Regions from separate parts of the Homo sapiens genome. Here regions 1 and 3 are each reported to be linked to region 2. The links are microRNA targets in miRTarBase. Many come from high-throughput screens and were not tested one by one. Region 2 holds a microRNA gene; each other region holds the end of a gene's coding sequence.

What was found. Region 2 holds the annotated microRNA hsa-miR-188-5p (CAUCCCUUGCAUGGUGGAGGG, at 3,766-3,786, shown strand). A microRNA usually pairs through its seed, bases 2 to 8, with sites in the 3' UTR of a target mRNA and lowers its output. Matches are read on the target gene's strand: a 7mer-m8 pairs with bases 2 to 8, a 7mer-A1 pairs with bases 2 to 7 and ends in A, and an 8mer does both.
Region 1: miRTarBase lists SOS2 as a target of hsa-miR-188-5p. Seed matches in the 3' UTR shown: 8mer at 5,370-5,377.
Region 3: the mRNA of CEMIP is a reported target of hsa-miR-188-5p. The part of its 3' UTR that is shown has no 7-base or 8-base seed match.

What each region holds. Positions count from the first base shown.
Region 1 is chr14:50,112,659-50,119,760 of GRCh38, forward strand. SOS2 (SOS Ras/Rho guanine nucleotide exchange factor 2) reads right to left here. Exons shown (of 23, transcript NM_006939.4): 23 at 4,472-6,195. The coding sequence ends at 5,686. It overlaps VCPKMT (valosin containing protein lysine methyltransferase), which reads right to left and starts at 3,914. Exons shown (of 6, transcript NM_024558.3): 1 at 3,629-3,914; 2 at 3,411-3,521; 3 at 3,181-3,253; 4 at 1,627-1,746; 5 at 1-61. The coding sequence starts at 3,894. RefSeq lists an enhancer at 3,851-3,910.
Region 2 is chrX:49,999,752-50,006,853 of GRCh38, forward strand. MIR188 (microRNA 188) reads left to right here and starts at 3,752; the gene lies at 3,752-3,837. The region is part of intron 3 of CLCN5 (chloride voltage-gated channel 5); the gene reads left to right. MIR532 (microRNA 532) reads left to right here and starts at 3,397; the gene lies at 3,397-3,487.
Region 3 is chr15:80,947,218-80,954,319 of GRCh38, reverse strand. CEMIP (cell migration inducing hyaluronidase 1) reads right to left here. Exons shown (of 30, transcript NM_001293298.2): 30 at 2,549-5,523. The coding sequence ends at 5,396. It also overlaps a transcript of MESD not described here. Among named protein-coding and RNA genes, the nearest start is that of MESD, 39 kb to the left of the region's middle. RefSeq lists enhancers at 1-691, 692-1,664.

The DNA.
Region 1 (7,102 bases), not on the chromosome of region 2:
GATACTCTTCATCATGTTTTTCCAAAGGAATTTTTTCAAAGTCAAAATCTAGCTGAAGGAGCTATAAATTTAAAAGAGACATACTTCAAATTCAATAATATGAACTGACCTGTGGGTGACAGAAGTCAGAATGCTGGTTACTTTTTTTTTGAGAGTCTCACTCTGTCACCCAGGCTGGAGTGCAGTGGTGCGATCTTGGCTCACTGCAACCTCCACCTCCCTGGGTTCAAGTGATTCTCCTGCCTCAGCCTCCTGAGTAGCTGGGATTACAGGCAAACGACACCACACCCAGCTAATTTTTGTATTTTTAGTAAAGAAAGGGTTTCACCATGTTGACCAGGCTGGTCTCGAACTCCTGACCTCATGATCTGCCCATCTCGGCCTCCCAAAGTGCTGGGATTACAGGCGTGAGCCACCGCGCCTGGTCAGTGGTTACCTTTTGAGTATTGCCTGGGAAAGGGCAGTGTGCAAACCTTCCAAGATCCTGAAAATGTCCTCTATCTTTATGTTGGTAAGTAGTTACTTGGGTGTATACATATGAAAAATTAAGCTCAGCACTTGACTGATACATATGCATTTTACATATGCTTTACCCCAATAAAAGCTGTTTAACAGTACGAAATTTTCATTATGCATCATTTCAAAAGTTCATGAACATTTTTCATATTCAAGAAAAACATGAAAATAAACAAACATTTTAGTATTTGTTACCTGAGGCAGTCATATACCTGCTTTCTCATTAAACCAAAGTAGTCCTTCCAGCAGACAAAACTGCAGGCCTATATAGATGTACCCTCAAAAGGAGTCACTCACAATGTGATAGATTTGTGCCCATATAAGGGTTTGGGTGATCACTAGGGGAAGAAGAGTGACAGATACATAAAACCCTATATACTATATTTTGCAACTTCCTGTAAGTCTTTTCTAACTATTTCAGACAAAAAGTTTAAAAAACAAAAAAAAAGACCCTAAAAATAGACAGGTATCTAGGTTGGAGGTTTCATAAATATGTAGAGAAAAACACAGAAGTAAAAACTTATCACTTGGCAACATGGGAAAACCCCATCTCTACAAAAAAATACAAAAAGTTAGCCGGGTGTGGTGGTACATGCCTATAGTCCCACTTACTTGGGGGCGGGGGGGGGGGGGGGTGACACTGAGGCAGGAGGATCACTTGAGCCCAGGAGGTTGAGGATGCAGTGAGCCCTGACTGTGCCACTGCACTCCGGCATGGGCTACAGGGTGAAACCCTGTCTCAAAACAAAAACAACTTATCACCTGCACATTTCTATCACGTATTCTCCAAAGGTAATACATACATCATTGAGATGTTCCCCAAAGGCAGCATCATGTTTAATAAACACTGAAAACTGTTCTTAAAAAGGAGTGGCACCCGTATTAACATTCTTCTGTAGCCATAGATCAACTAATTAGAAATGAAATAAAGTATCAGAAAAGATGAAAAAGGGGAGCTTCGTAGAATCATGGGCTGTGAAGATCCTTTCCTCAGCTTCACACAAACAGCATGTTTTCCCCACCCAAAATTACCATAATATACTTGAAGAGTCACATACAGCCCCCCTGAAGGGAAATCACTACAAAGATAATAGAGTACTTAATACTTACCTCAAAATATTTTTTCTCAATTTCTGGATTTTTCCCCATTGTTCGTTGTTCATAACAACATATAATACAAGTTTCAAATCCGCTGATATCTTTTAGAGTTTTCAGCAATGGCTCCAAAGACTATTTAAAAAAGAATATATTTTTTGTTTTTGATTTAAAAATTTTTCTACTCTAAAAGTAGGTTGAGGAGGTACAGGGGTATTTATAGCTCCCCTACAATTTATCCATCTTTGAATCAATCCAACAAAGCACATGTAATTAAAGCTCTAGGCTAGGTGCAGTGGCTCACACCTGTAATATCAACACTTTGGAAGGCAGAGGTGGAAAGATCGCTTGAAAGCAGGAGTTGAAGACCAGCCTGGAGAATACAGCGAGAGACAAACCACCCCCCGCAACACCTTACAAAAAATTTAAAAATTAGCCAGCATGCTGGTGCACACCTATAGTCCCAGCTATTGAGGAGGCTGAATGGGAGGATTACTTGAGCCTCAGGAGCTCGAGGTTACAGTGAGCTATGATCACTCCACTGCACTACAACATGTGTGACAGAGCAAGACCCCTATCTTAAAACAAAAACAAACAAACAAAAACCCCTCTGTAACTAATGATTGGGTAAGCTCCTGTTAACTAAACCATGTACTGATTTTGGTTTCCAGAAAAAGGATTCAGATGACTGCATTTTGGAGTTCTCATGGGAAACAAATGGAATCAACCTTACTCTTAAAAGTTTAATTTTATTTAATCTAATTTGGGATTTAAATAATCAACGATTTCCCTACAAAAGTTAAATCTGACCCTAACTTGGTTCAATGCTAATTATTTTTAAAATAATCGATGCCCACAACACTATACAAACTGATGTTTTTTTTTTTTTTTTTTTTTTTTGAGACAGAGTTTTGCTCTTGTTGCCCAGGCTGGAATGCAATGGCATGATTTCGGCTCACTGCAACCTCCGCCTCCCAGGTTCAAGCGATTCTCCTGCCTCAGACTCCCAAATAGCTAGGATTACAGACATGCACCACCACGCCTGGCTAATTTTGTATTTTTAGTAGAGACAGGGTTTTGCCATGTAGGTCAGGCTGGTCTCGAACTCCCGACCTCAGGTGAGCCACCTGCCTTGACCTCCCAAGTGTTGGGATTACAGGCGTGAGCCACCGCGCCCGGCCCAAACTGGTATTTAAAGAAAAGAACAATGAATTATTTATAACTTAATTCTCAATGTCATGGTTAACATGTTCCGTGGGAACAACCAAGGGAAAAAGAGAGGATTTTGGCTTTTCATAACATCCAATTGGCAAAATCCTTTAAAATTTTTACAGAAGCCTCTAGTAAAATGCATATAACACTTTTCTCAACATGCTTCACCAGGTCGGTATGATAATGATGAGCGTATATACATATGGTCCCTGGTGACTTTTATCTTCTCTTTACTGCATCAACTATAAGGCAAATCCCGGATTCAAAGATGTTAAAATGTGAAGAAACGTGTGCTTTAGAATTCATGGAATAAGGTTCATCTTCTAAGTGAAGAGACTTCGCTCACTGGATACTTACCTCTTCATAGTATATGCAGTCGGCCATCAGTATGAAGTCGGGTGGAGAAGGAAAGCCTTCTATTTCTTCCCCCCTTAAAAATGCCAAACAAATATTTCAATTGTTTTAATAATTCAAAATACTCTTGTTTTATAAAGAACCGGAAAGTCCCCTTCCATCCTTTTAATGAAACGCAATTCAAAACAAACTACAAATCAATATCTTAAAACAAGCTGAAAGGCCATACAAACCATTTCAGTACCTTGGCTTGAACAGAACCAGTGACAAGATGCTTGTTCATATTAATATTCATCTTCAGCAAGTCTTGCAATTCCTCAAGATCGGTGACTACAACATCAGCCCTATAAAATAACGTCGACTGAGGTGTAGGCACAGGGGGGAAAGCCTGTAATCCGGATTTCCCCAGCAAGAAGGCGCCCCCACATCCCGCCCGCCCGCCAGCTCTTACCCGAGGGTAGCAGCCATGAGCCCCACGGCCCCGGTGCCCGAACCCAGCTCCAGCACCGACCGCCGGCTCAGCGCGTGGGCCCCGTCGCCAGAAAACTCGGGCGTTTCCAGGTATTTAGAAAGGACAATGGCAGCGTCCCACACAACGCAACCCACGCCACCGGAGCTATACTGCTGTAGTCGTAGCACTGTACCATCCCGCTTCTCCAAAACTCGCACAAAGCTCCGCAGTGGGTCCTCCAGCGAGGACTCCAGCGTATCCGCCATTGCGCCCGGCAACAGAAAGCGGCGCGCGCAGGGACGTCACATCAACGCGCACCGCCCCGCCCTGCGGCTCCGCCCCCTGCCCGCCGCTGAGTTGGCGACGCAGCGCGCGCGAGTTAACAAAGCCCGGAAGGCAGCGTTACCTGGGCGGGGCCGAGCGTGGGGCCCCTGCTTACCCGACGCGCTTGGCAGCCTCCCTCTACCCTAAATCACACGTTTGGCTTAACGAAGAGGCCGTTTAAATCACTTTCCCAGACAAAACTATTATAATCTGCTCTTTAAAAAACAAAGCCAACCTCAGAGTTTACCAAGTTGGACACTTGATTTACATAGTAGTTACAAGGCTTAAATGCAATCAGCTTCCAAGATCCTACCAAAGATGGCTATAATCTTACAATCTTCCTTTTCAAGTTCCTAGTATGCTCCTAGTTTTTTGTATGAATTCATAAAAGTGGTTGCTAGAAGCCTGCAGCTCACATTTAACAGTGAAGAAAAAATTGTGTGTGTGTGTGTGTGTGTCTATAGGACTCAACAATCTCCCCCTTTGTTCCTTATAATGAAAACACATATTTTAAAAGTCTTTTAAAAATTAAGACTGGGGTGATTTATTAATCTTGTTAAGAACTCTGATACAAAGCACAGTAAAAGGCCACAAACCAGTAAATAAACAACGTGGCTTTTGGCTACTTTACAACTGCTGCTACAGCACTATCAGCAAAACACTCTATCACTTTGAACGAAGGCATCCAAATGGCAAATAAAAGCTTTACTCACTTATCTGATTAAAATGTTTAATAAAGCTTTAAGTATTTGCTGGTTTAAATATTACCAATCTAAAAAATATATTTAAAAAAAATTTCAGTTAACACGAGATTTATAGAGAAAGTTACTAGGTCTTGAAGGCAAGGCAGTTGGTTCCTATGCCATAGAATTTTTTTTGAATTTATGAATTAGTAAAGTAGCAGATTGTATTATAGGCCTCAAGTCACTTAAATTTATATAGGTTATTAGCAGTATCTTTAAATATACAATATAAACAAAACTGTACATACATGGCATATTAACTGTTTTCCATAACAATAGGCAATTCATTAGCTAAAGACGTCATAGTCTGCAAAAACAAAAGGCACATCTGAATGAGATACATGCCCTTTTTCCCTCCATCATTGGGTTATGTAGTCTTTGTTTACATTTTGACAAAATAATAAACACTTACAGTGCCATTCTATTATTTTCATCCTACTTTTCATTTTTGTCTTCAGCAGCAAATACCGGCATTTAAGACATGGCATTAAAGAGTTTAAGAACAGTTGGTGTTATTCACAATTCTCCTAGATGTAAAAACTAGAAGTAAAAACTAGAAGATGGTCAAAGAGGTTTAAAAATCAGTAACACCATATACCCCTCCCATATTTGTGTAAATTCACTGCCTTAAAAAGGCATCTATTACTCAAATTTGAAAAATTTCACAAAAGCACTATCCCTTTTCAGTGCAATCATGTCACTTTAAACCATATTTTTGCAGAGTTTACAGTGCAAATATAAATTCTTTATACTGGCCTTTTGGCAGCACTGAGGATCCAAGACAAGGCAATGCTACTGATCACCTGAGGATAATGGTGAAGGACTTTTGTATTTTTATTTTTCCAATTCTTAAAAGCTTATTTGATCAGTAGCATTTTTGTAAGAGCATTATTTGTAAAAAGTACTAAAATACTATGTCTTTTTTTGAATAAATTAAAAAAAAAACTTTACAAATACCATTCCAGTGTCAATGACTACATATGGCTAAGGTCATTGGGGAGTTTCTGCATTTTCTAGCAAAGGCAGTCTGTACAATGGGGGGTGCGAAAGCTCCCGTTTGTAAGTCTTTGGTGGCAGTTTTGGCAGATGAGGGCTTGAATTCTGCCTTGGTGGAACAGGGGGAGCTGGAGGATGAGCAAGATTATTCTGACTAGAACTGAGCACATAGCATCGACGCGGTACCCTTGGAGAGGGTGTGCTAGGAGGAGTGCTTGGCGAATTTGGACACGTACTAATGTCTCTGAGCCAGTCTGAATCTCTGTGAAGATGCCCCAGTGGAGGTGGCTGAAGATTAAATGGACAGTTTATAAAGTGTTCTGGAGGCCGAAGGGGAACTGGTGGAGGGGTATCAGGAAGAGGATCTCTTGGTGGTGGCGGAGGTGGACTATGCAGAGGCCCATCAAATGCACCAGTAGGAACAGGAACTCTGGGTTTTACCTTTGGAGGAGGAGGCTGTCTCGGTGGAATAGCAGGAGGATCATCATCAGATTTCATATTTCCCTCAAAAAAAAAAGTAATTAAATTATACCTCTATTCTGAAAAATTAAAAAAAAAAATTTTTAAGTCTGAAAAATTCTTACTTGTCAAGTTAAATTCAGAGGCTCAAAATAAACTAATCTGGGTTAATTATCAGATTATGAGTACTCCTAGATTAATTCAGGGCTGGGTTTAATATTTTTATATATGAGATGTTTTAATTTAAGTCTTAGGTCCTAACTCTTTATCTTGCTTTGTGTATACATTTCAGAAATTTATGTATTTTAATTATAATAGTAGGTAAGTGACAATAATTTATTGCTTTATAGACATGAAAGGACATGATGTCTAGAGGACTTTAATGTCTAGCTTCTGCTTACTGGGCATCTACTGCTACTTTCTCCAGTGAGGCTTAGAGCAGTAGATCTCAAAGTGTGATCCAGAGACCAACAACATCAGCATCAGTAGGGAACTTGTTAGAAAAGCAAATTCTTGGGCCCCATCCTAGACTACTGAATCAGAAACTCTGGAGGTGTGGCTCCACAGTCTGATTTTACCAAGCCTTTCAGGTAATTCTGATGCACCCTTAAAATTTTGAGAAGCATTAGTTGAAAGTTTGAAGAATACTTGGAATACTACTGAAGTTTTTTTCCACCTGTACCAGAAAGAAAATGTACTTCCAGCCTCTTTTTTATTTTTTTATTTTTATTTTTAGTTTTTGAGACAGAGTCTTGCTCTGTCGCCCAGGCTGGAGTGCAATGGTGCGATCTTGGCTCACTGCAACCTACCTTCACCTCCCAGGTTCAAGTGATTCTCCTGCCTTAGCCTCTTGAGTAGCTGGGATTACAGGTGCCCGCCACCATGCCCGGCTAATTTTTGTATTTTTAGTAGAGACAGGGTTTCACCATATTGGCCAGGCTGGTCTTGAACT
Region 2 (7,102 bases):
ATAGTTGGTGTTGTCAAGCAGCTGATACCTGCGGAATAGAATATGAGAATTGTGCTACAACGAATACATTTGCTTTCTTAGTCTGTACATTAAAAGCCCCTTTTTTTACTTGTTTTAAAGGTTGTGGAGCATTGTTTGAATGACAGTTATTTACATTGTAAAAATAGTATGAAATTTATGATATTTTAAAAATTTGCTAGGATTCATCAGTGAGCATTCTTCCTATATCTGCCCTGTCTCTGCTCTCCACTCCCCCAGCTCTCCTGCCCCATGCAGGGGTGCAAGCCTCTCAAGCTATCCCATCCCACCTTGACCACACAGAACTACAGTGAGCTTTTTATTTTAAATATGCTTCCCCAAACCTGTTGGACTGTGGGTTTCCCCATCCGCCTCCTGCTTGCAGCCTCTCTCTCTAATCCTGCTTTTCTCTTTCTTTCTCTCATGTGCATACACTCATGATATGCATGTAAGGGAGACACCTGAGTTGCCCCATTGCATCCAGCATCGCAGGACTGTGAGCCTTCTATTGCTGCCACTCTCCTACCCCACGCATGGCTTAACCTAAAATAAAACTGACCTCCCAATTGGGAGGTTATTACAACCTCCCAATGCACACACTGGCTGGGCCACAGTGGCGTGTGAACCACTGTGTCAGCCACCTTATTACCCCTTTTCTGTGCATGCCCCCACACACATTTATGATAGGAGCTTGAGCCTCCTTATTCTCCATCCTTGCTCTTTCTCTCTTCCTTTTCCTCCCTCATCTCACATGTGTGTGCCAAGGATGTGCCAGAAAGTGGGTCCTTATCATTTTCAGTTCTCATACACATGTGGGTACACACAGCTTTAGGGTTCAGTGGTTAGGCCCACTGTCTTGGTAGTCAGATTACCTGTGGTAGAATCCTGGCGTGATCTGTAATGAGCTTTGTGATCCTAGACAAGTGACTTATCTTGTGTCTCAATTTCCACAACATGAAAATGAGATAACTAATTGTGCCAACCATATAGGTTTGTAATAAGCACTGAAGGAGGCGACGCATGTATTGGGATTAACATGTAATAAACTTCCTTAATCCATATGCTTTGCCTGGAGCAACTGATTCTCCATAGAAGAAAACTCACACCTAAGCTGCTTGGTCCCATTATTTGAAAATGTTTGGGAAGTACTGCCTTGGATGACTGTTTCATAATTCTTTCCTTTCCTCAAATCTGCAGTGTCACCTCCCTTCCTTCCTCCTCACTCTCAGCTGCTGACTTTGCTTTCTTCTTCCTTGAGAAAATGGAAGCCATCAGAAGGGACCCTCTGAAGTTCCTCTGACCTCTCCTCCATTACCTGCACATGTCCCTAAGTGTCAGCTCCTCCCCATTATGGTAGATGAATTACTGGCACATGTAGCCAGGACCAGTTCCTCCACTTGTATACTAGATTTCAACCCCTGTCACCTATTCAGTGACAGTGCTCCTGCAATTGATCCCCCTCTCCTTACTGCATCATCAACTGTTCTTTGTATACTGGAGTGTTTGTACCAATATCTAGATGTGCTGCCACATATCCTGTCTAAAAATAATTTTAAAAATTAAAAAGCACTACCTTCTCTACCCAAAAAGCTCCTCCAGTTTCTACTCATTTCTCTGTTCCTCTTTACAGAAAAAAAAAAAATTTTTTTGAAGGAGCTGATTGTACTCCATCTCTACTTCTATTTCTCCCATTTACTCTTTTTTTTAAATGTATACTTTAAGTTCTAGGGTACATGTGCACAACATGCAGGTTTGTTACATATGCATACATGTGCCATGTTGGTGTGCTGCACCCGTTAACTTGTCATTTACATTAGGTATATCTCCTAATGCTATCCCTCCCCCCTCCCCCCACCCCATGACAGGCCCCGATGTGTGATGTTCCCCTTCCTGTGTCCAAGTGTTCTCATTGTTCAATTCCCACCTATGAGTGAGAACATGTGGTGTTTGGTTTTCTGTCCTTGGATCCCTTCCTTACACCTTATACAAAAATTAATTCAAGATGGATTAAAGACTTAAATGTTAGTCCCATTTACTCTTGAAAACCCTCCATGTAAAACTGTAACCTGCAGCACTTAAATGACCCTGGTCAAGGTCCCCAGTGTCCTTCACATTTCCCAATTTACTGGGCAATGTTGTCATCTTACTTGACAGATCAACACACAGTTGATCACTCCCTCTGCCTTGAGACTCTACCTGCTTTCCAGGATTCCACACTCATGAGGTTGTCTTCTTACCTCACAAGCCTCTCTTTCTCAGTCTCTTGATGGTTTCTCCTCCTCTTCCTGAATTCTAAGTATTAAAGAGATATAGGGCTTAGTCTTCAGACTTCTTTTTTTTTTTTTAACTTCTCATTAGTCCTCAGCTGTTCTCATCTTGTCTTGCAACTCTAAGTACCATTTTATGTGGATGATTTCTGTGTTTGTATTTCCAGCCTGGACTTCTCTCCTGAATTCCAGATGCCTATGTCCAACTATGTACTGGACATCTGCCCCGAATGTCTAATAAGTATCTCAAAACTTTAACACATCCAAAGCTGAGGTCCTGGTTTTCCTCCCCCTCTCAAAAAGCCCTACTCCTCCCTCTGTGTTCTCCAACTCAGCAAACAGCATTTCCCAATTGCATATGCCAAGGATATGGAGAATTTTAATAAGCTAAAGGTTTTGGATTCATCTTTGACACTTTTTCCCCTCCATTCTCCAAATACAAACTGCTGTCAAATCTTGTTGGCTCTACTTTCAAAATACATGTCTAATCTGACCACACAGCCACTTCTCATACTTCTCACTTCCTCTATTATTTCCACACTAATCCAGCTTTTCCCTGGGCTGACAAGTGCAAGTTCTCTTGCGTCTGTCTGTCTGTCTGTCTCTCTGTCTCTGTCTCTGTCTCTGTCTCTCTCTCTCTCTCTCTGTGTGTGTGTGTGTGTGTGTGTGTGTGTGTGTGTGGTGTGTGTGTGGACACAAAGTGGTTGGTGGCTGAGAGCTTGAGCCTCCTTTTTTGAGTCCTCTTTCTAATGACCTGCATGCCAGATTCTAAGCTTTCTTACCATCTGTTCTCGTATGTGTGTTATTTCATCTGTAAAATAGGGATAATGATCACCTCATGGATATTTTATGAGAATAAATGAGCTATGTGTGAAAAGCACTTAAAACAGTGCTCTGCAAATGTAAATACTATACTGGTGTTAGGAATAAAAATAAAGGAAAAGAAAGAAGGAAGGAAAACAAATATGTTGTAGATAGTGAACATTTCTGAAGGTACATATGTGAATGTACACAAGCACACCTTCTCATTACAGCATGTCTGGGGCACAGTCATAGAAGTCCAAGGCATCTGGGATACGCATGCACACAGTATACAGGAGAGCAGACCTCCCGACTTGCTTTCTCTCCTCCATGCCTTGAGTGTAGGACCGTTGGCATCTTAATTACCCTCCCACACCCAAGGCTTGCAGAAGAGCGAGCCTTCTCTTCCCTCTCCAGTGCATAGGCATGAGCACATGGACAGGTACACCAAAGGGAGGTAGACCCTCTCTTACGTGCTCTGTATGTGGGGTACACTGTTAGCAGCCATCCCATCTGGATGACTGTCCTGCTTCCATGGCCACTGCTCCTAGTTTACCCATCAGCACTCCTGTGGCTATCTTGCTGCCCACTTGCACCCCCCAGGCCAGTGCCTCTTGCCTCCTAGAGCATACCCATATGTCGTGCCAAGAGAGCAAGCCCTTCCCTGCTCCCTCTCTCACATCCCTTGCATGGTGGAGGGTGAGCTTTCTGAAAACCCCTCCCACATGCAGGGTTTGCAGGATGGCGAGCCTCAGCTTTCCTTGCTCTCTTGTGCATGTGTATATACACATACGCACTCCTTCACCAAAAGAAAAACACACACCCATGTGGTGGGAAGGAGAATGACTCTCAGCCATGTCCTTTCTCCCATCTCAGTCTTACATGGATCCTGCAGGAGAGGGAGACTTCTCTTAGCTTTCTCTTGCACATGGTGCAGCCCCTCATACTCAGGGATAGGCACAGCCTAGAGAAGGAAGGGGGGTCTTTTGACCTGGTTCTGTCTTAGCGGCACCTAGAGGAGGAGAGAGAACCTTCTCAGGACTCCTGTACATGGGGCATGATGAAAAGGGAGTCTTCTAGCTAATTCTCACAAACCCAGTTTGTGAGGAAAATTGTGTCTATATCATAACCATATGCAAAGATGTAATATGCACACACATTTTGGGTTCAGAAAGTAGAATCCACTCACTGTGCCATGCCTTTCCATATGCACACTTGTTTGCTCAAGAGGGTGTGTGAAGATCTGTCTTCTTAGACACTCATGTAGATATGAGTCAGATTGTGAGTTTTCTCTGTTATCTCCCCAGACCCAGGATTTGCAGCCGATTCATTTGGTGAGCCACTCATTCATTCAGCAAATATTTATCGAGCAGCTACTGTGTGTTGGGTACTCCCCTATGCACCAGGGATACACCAGTGACCAAAAGACAAGAATCCCTGCCCTAGTGAGGGGAGGCAGGTAGTGAACAAAATAAGTAAGTAATAGATAGTGTGCCAATTGTTGATAAGTGCTCTGGAGAATAATAAGGCAGGAAAAGGGGACAAGGAGTGGGTGGGGGTAGTTACAGCATAGATGGTGGTGGAGAAGTTTCGATATCAAATAGGGTAGTCAGGAAAGGCCTACTGTGTTCTAGGAACAACAAAGAGCCATTGTGGCAGAAGCATAGGGCTGGGAAGTAGTAAGTTACAATGGAAAAAGGGAAAGCTGATAATTACTATGTATCTCTAAAATCTAAGGCCGCTTTTAAAAAAAAAATCATACCATTATCACACTTAAAAATAATTACCATCCAGGCACAGGGGCTCATGCCTGTAATCTCAGCACTTTGTGGGAGGCTAAGGTAGGCAGATCACCTGAGGTTAGGAATTCAAGACCAGCCTGGCCAACATGGTGAAACCCCGTCTCTACTAAAAATACAAAAATTAGTCAGGCCTGGTGGCAGGTGCCTGTAATCCCAGCTACTCGGGAGGCTGAGGCAGGAGAATCGCTTGAACCCGGGAGGCGGAGGTTGCAGTGAGCCAAGATCGTGCCACTGCGCTCCAGCCTGGGTGACAAGAGCGAGGCTTCATCTCAAAAAGAAAAAAAATTGCCAACAATTTTTTAATATCATCACATATCTGTTGTTCCCATTTCCACTTGTCTCAGAAATATCATAAATTAGGATCCAGATAAGGTCCATGCATTGCATTTGGTTGATATGTATCTTAAGTCCCTTTGAATTATATCTTTCCCTTCCATCTATATTTTTTCTTTCCTTATAATTTATTTGTTGGAAGAAAGTGGGCCATTCATCCTATACAGTTTTGCATAGTCTGGATTTTTGTGATCACATCCCTGTGATGTAGTTTACATGTTCCTTCTCCTTGTTTGTATTTCCTGTAAACTGATAGTTGCATCTGGAAGCCTGATCAAATTCAGGCTTAATTTTGAGGAAGGGGGAGCAGAACTACTTCCATTAAGAGGCACAAAATAACTGATGATCATCTTTCTGTGATGTTAGTTGCCACCGATGCTCAATTCTTAGAGCCGTTATTTCATTAGGGGTTGCAAAATGATGATATTCTAATCCCATTATTCTCTTGATTTATTAGCTGGAATACTTCTATAAAGAAAAACTTCCCTTCATCTGCTATTTGATCACCCAGTGTTGCCGTCTTTATAGGCAAGATAGGATAAATGTTTGGTTCTCTTTATTTATCAGTACTCAGAATAATGAGTTGGTTCACTAGCTTACTCTAAAGAGGATTTTTTAAAAAAACTATTATAATAAACTCATAGATTTAAATATATTTGGACTTTTAATCCATTGCAGTTCTTGCCTTCAGTGAAGCTCCAGTGCCCCATCTTTAGCCAGTAGGAGCTTCTTCAAATTGGTTCCTCAGTCCTTTTGACATGCCTCCGTAGTTATCTGATAGCTTCTCCGCTTTCAGAGATGAAAAAAATGTACAAAGCTCATCGCAGATACCTTCCCCAGGCCTGGAATCTGCCATGTCTTCAAGAAGCCCTGGTTTCTTTTAATCAGACATGATATTTAAAGACCATATTTGCCTCTGGATTGGTCATTGTATTTAGGCTTCTACAATGATCAGAACAGAAAAATGTTTTGTTTTTGTGTTTTCTTGTTTCTAGATAAATACATCATGATTCCATTATACTTCTGATTCAAAATCAGGATTACAGTTTTCTGTGTCTTTGCTTCACAAGTATGGTTCTGACTGTTGTATGGCAAATAGGAGGAGAAAGTGCAGAAACTGGGAGACCAGTTAGGAGGCCATTGAAATAATTCAGTTGAGAGATGGATGGAGGCCTACATCAGGGTGATCGTGGTGAAGGTAGTAAAAAGTGGTTATATTTTAAAGTTACAGCCAGTTGAGTTTACTGATACATTGCATGTGAAGTGTGAGAGAAAGAGGAGTAGGAGACTGAGCCCTCTCTTCCCTCTTTGTCACATATGAGTTGGGTACATATGCTGACACTGCCTCTTTAATCTGTAGCATCCGCATGCAAGTGCTGTCCCAGTGCAGTACACCTGGGCTAGGACTCACAGATGGTATGTTATGCACAGAGCAGAGAGTGCCTGTCACCTCTCCTAGTTCCTTTCAGAGAGCTTTTTGAATGCCTGTTGGATTTGGGGATCCAATAGTGGCAAGAGCATCAGGGACCCTGGTTTTACTGTGGGGTGAGCTTGTGCCAGAGAACACAGTTCATCATTCCCATTCAGCCTGCCTTCATGTGTTCAAGGGGCTGGAAAAGGGGAGCTTTTTCTTTCCTAACTCCCATGCTATCCTTGGGGTACAGGTGCCTGAGCCTTCTCATTTGCTCCTTCTCTTTAATCCTTGATACTGGTACTAGTGCTCTCCACATGCAATGCACCTTGGCAGGGATTCAGATGGGGTGAGCCTTAGCTGCAGATGGAAGGACAGAGCCCTTGTACATCGCCTACCTCTCCTGCTGCCTGCCAGTATTATTTACTCCTGTAGGGAGCCAGAAGAGAACAGTACAGCCACAGTCCCCT
Region 3 (7,102 bases), not on the chromosome of region 2:
CCCAACAGAACTCTGCCAGATATGGGAAAACCTATGGCCTATGCTCTGCAGGAGGCTACAGTCTGGAGGAAGGGGTGAATGTTAGCCTGGGACAGGGGGCGCAATATCAAGGCACTGGGCCCTGGGCCCAGGAGAGGAAGGAGAAAGCTGCCAGGCATGGGTCAGAGAAGGCTTTGTGTGGAGCTACGCCCTGGAACATGAGTAGGCGTGGGCCAAGCCGAGAGGAGAGAGGGCAGGGTGGGTCAGGTCATCTACCATGTTATGAGGACTCTAAGATCCTTGAGCCAGTGGGAGGGGATGAGGATTAGGGCTCATCTGGGGATTGGGGATGAGGAAGGAATGGGTGACCAGATTGGAGATGCAGGCATATGCCACCTCAGGGACTGCCTGTGTGCCCAACTCAGCATACCCTGTGTGCCTGTGGGTATGGGAACAAAATTCTCCCAAACGCCTGCTTCCAGCTTTGTGCCGTTGCGTTTTCTTTAGGCAGATGTTGTTAGCTGTCACTGCACTGACCTCTAAGGCCACCCCAGCCTCCATGAGTGAACGCCCATGCCTTCACCCCTCCTGTCTGTGGGGAGGAACCCCACCCCCTTTCCTCCAGCAACTCCTACACATCGCCTCCAGGCCTTCCCAGCACCATTCCCTCACCAGGAATGTTCTTTGCCCTTCTTCACTTAGTTCATTCCTATGCATTCTGCAAAACTTAACTCTGCCACACTTTTCTGACCTGTCCCCTCCCAGGCTGGTGAGGGAGAGCAGATCATCCTGTCTGTCTCCCTGCGGACAGGAACGGAAGGTGCCCACTGGTCACCTAATGCATTGCAGTGACTACTTGTGGGATCTGGTGACTATTGCAGGGACAAATGAAGGACCCTGAAGTGCCTGCCTGTCCCTCCACCCCAACCTCTCTGTGGCTTCTTTTGCTGTGCGTCTAGCTGGGTGCAGTGTCCCATTGCTCGACGGTTCCTCGTTGGCGTCTGCTTTCCAAGTCCTCCCTGGATGCCTCTTCTATGCACCTACTGAATCAGTGGGCTGTGCTCTCTTTCACACAGTGACACTTCTGGCTGAGAAGTCACTAGTAACCCCCCACCCTCTTTCATCACAGCCAGTGGGCCCTAAAGCTGACCCTGTGTTTGGCCCAACCCACCTTCCACTTTGCCTCTCATGACTGAGCCTTGATTTATGCCCAGGTGTTCTCAAGCCCACACTCTGATAGCTGCCCCTCTGTCAGACTCTGCCTCTTACAAAAGGCCCTTCTCTTATCCATCTCTGACTCTCAGGCCAACACCTGTCCTACTTCCACTCACTGACCTTCCCTGACCAATCCAGGCGATGATCACTCCCTGCCCTCAGAAGCCTGCCACACCACTCATTGGGCAGGTAATTTCATGTTCTCCATGGGGTCATTCTGTGTTCCTCTGTGTGCACCGTGCCTGGCACAGAGCAGGGGTGCAAAAATATTTGTTGACTGAGTGTGCAAGTGTGATCTCTTTCTCCTGGCAAAGTTTCCTGAAGGTAGAGGCCGTGTACTCTCTACTGCACAGCTGACTTTATGCCCAAAGCTAGTCTGCCAGATATATTTGTGTATTGGCAGCTTAAAACGACCAATCTGGTACCAGCCCCTTTAAGTGAATTGACTATACACAGATGCACACAGACAGACAGACAGAGAGACATACACACACACACACACACACACGAGACATAGTTGTTTTGTTTTTAAACCCAATGCATAAGACCCAGGAGCTCTTTGGAAATCAAGAGAAGAACTCTCTGTGGTGATGGAAATGTTTTATATCGACTCTATCCTATATGGTAGCCACTAGACACACATAGCCATTGAGCACTTGAAAATTGTGGCCAATGTGATTGAGGAACTGCATTTTTAATTGCATTTAATTTAAATTAATTTAAATGTAGGTAGCCCCATGAAGCTAGTGGCTGCCCTCCTGGACTGGCAGTTCTGGACCACTCCCAGTTCACCTGCTCTAACCTCTGCCTCTCACTCTCTCCCTTCCAGACCCCTGAGCCCCTTCCAGTGCTGCCTGAGGTGCCCTCTACCTGTGCCTGCCTCTCGTCTGCCAGTTTGATTTGGACCTGTTTTTCCCACCTCAGCCCCCATGCTCTTGTCAAACGTGTTTGGCCTCCAGCCAAACAGGGCCTGGGAGGAAAAGAGAGTCCTGCTTCTGCCTGGCTTCCCCATCGGGGAGGGGAGTTGAAGTGACAGCCTCCTGACAGCTTAGAAATGTGGAGGACGCAGCAAGTTCTGGACATGGCCAGCCATATGAATGATATCTTCTCTTTCTTTGAACCATCTCCACCTGCTCTTATGGACACCCCGCCTTGGGGCAAGGCAAGGTAGGATCTTGACATATGACTAGCTCTTGGGAATAAGGCCATGGAAGTAAGGCAGACACATGGGGTGATTTCATCAGCCTTATTATCCTTAGATAACTGTTTATCTTAGGTTATCCTTAGATAAGTTATTATCCCTAGATAAAATGAAGCCCATTTTAATAGAAAATGAAACAAACAGACAAGATGATGACATCCTTTGTATGTTTACTATAATAACAGCAAAATTTTTCCAAACCAGAGCCAATTTCCTTGGCTCTAGGTACACCCCTTCCAAGCAATGCAAAGGACATCTCCAATCATGACATTTAAGACAATTCTTTATTTCTCTGACAGTGACTTCTTGAAGTGCACATATAATAAATAAATAGAAAATATATCTTTGTTCATGGTGATGCCTACAAGAAATGTTTACATACAAACACTCTATACATCTAACTCCCGAAAAAGGACCAGCTATTTCGGCAACAGAAAAAAGACAAGCATTTCAGAGGAGCGTTGCTTTCCTTAAAGACCTAACTCACTTAAGTCTTACAAACAGAAATAACAAGGAGGACAATTTTCTAAGCAATAAGAAAATTTGTGCTACCAAGAAAATGCCTAGATATTGGCTCTTGGTGAATGGTTTAGGAAAGAAACTTTTATGTACAGATCCTGTACTGTGAAACATATGTACAACTCTGAGAACTTTCAAATAGATATCTTTTTTAAATGAACTGAGCCAAAGACATTCAACATTCCTGGCCACCTGAAAGTGATCACATCCTAAGTGGTTCACAGTGTGAGACCCTTGCATTAGAAGAGTGAAAACTCAACAAAACCGTGGACAAGAAGGACATGAGGTCATTTTAACTCTCCTCTCCATCACCACTAATCTCCCTGGAAGAAGTCCTTCCTGTGACTCTGGCCTTTGAAGCAGCCATATCTTTAAAAGCAGAGCCCTATGGTCACCTCCCAGCAGCTGAAAGATGTTTGGTGGGAAAGACCTCCCTGACAGTTGGCTCCCACCTGGGGAATGGACTCTTGGACCGAGTCTCATGGGTGCAGTTGGGTGGAGGGAGCCAGGCAGGCCCTCTTTGAAGGAAAGAGTTTGTGGTTGGGGCAGGAAAGGGGATAAATGTAGTTCATCACAAGACCCAGGGAGACTCTGGTGCCTCGTGCAAGATTATAAACCACAGATAGAGTTCTCCCTCTTACAGGAGCTCTTTGGGCTCTCTATAAGGTGGGCCAGGGAGAGAGCAGGGCATTAAGCAGCAGCTGAAAGGGACTGGGGTGGACCCAATAGCTGTTCAGACACCCAAGATCAGCCAAATTGGCTCACCAGAAACATGGCGAGCCCTACTCCCTCTGCTGGGCCTCACCTGTAGAGCTGCAGAGACAGGAGAGCCAGGTAGCACCAATGGGGAGTTGCAGCTACTGTGCACCCAGGCTGGGCTGACAGGTAGTGAACAAAGTGAAGGCCACAGGGACCGCCAACACCAAGGGGAGGGCGGGTTTGTGTGCGCTGGGAGCAGGAGGGAAGAGATCTGCTAGCTGTCATTCTACTCTAGTCATTTCCTTTCCTTCGAGGGGACTTGTCCCCATTTCCAGAAGCTACCTCAGGAGTGCCTGGGCACTCTGGGGCCGGTTGTTGAGGCAATGTGGTGTGGCAGCAAGGGCTAGGGTGGGGCTCCCCAGGCCCTCCCTTAGCTGTGTGGTTCTTTCCCATCTTGGGGGCTCACTTTCCCCATCTGTTAAAATGAAGGCTTTGGGCTAGATATTTTCTATATTTCCAGCTCTGAAATCCCAGGCCGAGGGAGTACGAGCACATCTAGGGTCTCCTGGAGGCCCCCTGTGCTCAGTTCCCTGGATGAAGAGCAAATGAGGCCCTAAGGCAGGAGCTCACTTCTGTGGACTTCACCCTCTTGGAGTCAGAGGCAGGGCTGCCTGGGGACTGAATTCCTCTGTGCTCATAAGCAGCAAAGCCCATTGCTCCCCTCTGACCACACTTCTCCATCATGAGTGGGCCAGAGAGACGTGAGCAAAGGGCGACCCCGTAGTCACCAGCTTCAGCAGGCAGCGGCAGGGAGGGCTGAATCCCTGAGCCATTCCAGAGGCTGCCTCATCTCCCCCCAGCAAAATGCCCCCAGCCTTCATTCCTGTAAGCAAGAAGCCTTCCTGAGCCTCCCCTCTGAAATGGCACTGGCCTCCATTTTACCTCTCTGTGATTTCTCCACCTGGCATTGCAGTGCACATGGACCTGACTGCCTGCCCTACTGGACTGCAGACCCCTCAAGCTAGGCATTAGTTCTCACCTCTCCATCCCGTGTGCGCTGGGGCACCCAGCATCATGGATATCAGTGGATATCCATGAACTGTTGGGTTCCAGGTACCATGTGAAATGCAGCAGATTTCTGGAATCTCAGAACTAAAAGGGCCTTTGAGAGTCATCTAGTCCAAGTCCAAACCTGCCACTCAAAGTCTCCTGAAAGGTGGACACGGCCAGAGGCAGGGCTTGCCTCTTCCCCAAGGATAGCCAGTTCTACCCCAGCTCCTAATCCTGTGAGGTTGGCTCTTGCTTACAGGAGTAAAGATTTCCTTAAGGCCAAGGCTCTTTCTCCTACATTTACCACCCTCACTTGTCTGCTGAAGACCATGGGGATCTGTGAATGACCAGCCCTCCAGACTACCTCCTAGCTGGGTCAGGGCTCCTGCCAAAGTGGATCTTTGCTGTCAGCACAACCCAGGTCTCCTGATATGGTCCCCAAACCCCCACTGAAGAGGCACAGATAGGAGAGAAGCACCCAAGAGGCTGCAGGAAAGTGAATGTTTCCAGCATTGGCCAGCACCGCCCCAGGGGCTCCAGGTAGACACTTGAGTAGGGGCAGGTGGCAGCACCAGGGTCTCTGATAGCCTTCCCTTGGCCCATCAGGGCTGAAACACGGCCTTCCCAGGCAGCTGCTGGCAGGGGCTGGGGGACCCAGCCATCCCCCACTGGTCTGCTGCCAAGAGTCACCGTCATAGTCTACCACGAGGTGGCACCGGGCGGCAGCTGTCCTCACAACTTCTTCTTCTTCACCACAGGGATGGGCACAACTTGGAAGATTTTGGCTTTGTGATCCTCAGTGTCCAGTGTCACCCAGATGGGCCGGAAGCTGCCTTTGAAGCCAACGAATGCCATTTGCTCTGAAAAGCAATGATGAGTCTCCTGAGCAAAAGCCCTATGAGAGGACGGCTGCCCCACCCCGTTCCATGGCTCCCCATCGCCAGCCCCCCACGCCCACCAGGTACCGCCTAGCCACACTGCACTGTGGCCCCTTGGGAAGAGCTCTGTGCTCAGCTACTGATGGTGCCTGACATGTGTTTGTATGGGGCAGGCAGGGTCTCACCTGAGCCTCACTGCCACCTAGGCAGGGTGATGGCTTTGTTGTAGACAGGGGAGCCATGCACAGCAGGAAATGGGGCAAACTGTAAGGGAGGAGACCTCCTAGGAACCTGCCTACCTTTGAGCTGCCCCTAGGACAACCAGCAAGTCCCTGCCCCTCTCTGAAGCCCAGTGTTCCCATCCATCAAATGATGGCATTGATCTACAAGATCTCCTTCCCCACTCTATCACTCTGTGGCTCTAGAAAGAGTTCTGAGAGGTGAAGAAATTTGACCAAGAGTGTGGAGTAAATGGTGCACCCCAGATTAGAACTCTAAACCCCTGAAACCCACACAGCACTCTCCATCTTGCAGTTCACAGCTTGAGCATCCGAGGGGCATGGGAATCCACGTCTATACTCAGCCCATCTTGGCAGGCAACATGCATTTATCACCACCGGGAAAGTGCCATTCAACTTAGGTCACCTTACATACATCAGCTTTTGGCAACCGGGATCTTAATTTAAAAGACAGAGGCTCCAAAATGATTTCAGGACTGGGCTGGAAAGGATACTTCTCTTTTCCTTATGTCCTCCTTTGGCTGGTTTGAAGGGTTTGCATTGCTTCTGATTTTTCTCATTGCCCCATATGATGGGTTTCTGATTTTGATGTTTTCCATAGTGAGGATGGTGTATAACTAAGAAGCCCAGCTTTGAGTTAGGAAGATTAGGATCCAAGTCCTAACCTTAAGCAAGTGGCTTGGCTGTTAAATTCTTGGTGTCCTCATCTTAAATGGAAATAATAGTACCTGCTGCACAGGTTATTAATGAGTAAGTGAGATAATTATAACATGTTGTGCAAAGTGCAAGGCTGAACATTGAATAGCAACCACAATGATCATTATCATTATTGCCCGTGGAGCTTCTCTGCCGCCCATACAGCCTCTCTGAGGACTCTCCCTGCACCTAGTTTTTGTGATGATAATGGGTGTCATGCTGACATGTCCCTCCTGGATGGCTTCTTCCAGCACAGCCAGCAAGCCTGTGCTAGGCTTCACCACCGAAGCTGCCTGGCCTTGGACAAGCCATGTAGGTTCTCTGGGCTTTAGTTTTCTGGAACAAATAAGAGTTTTGCAAGCTGCAAAGGACTGTACAAACGCTAGGCATCAGCTAGAATGTTGAAGAAGATGCAGGACCCCTGGCCAGTCTGAATAGCAGGAATTGGGTAGGAGGGTGAGACTAAGCCACTTTTCTTATGATACTTTTGTTGAATAAAGGGCCACTTTCCAAGCAAATGAGTCAACAAATATAGCAATTTTCTTTCAGTGGCTGGTGGCAAGTTATAATAAATTTGCTGCAGTGCAGGGGTGGTAAACAGGTGGCATCTTGCCCATCCATTCCAG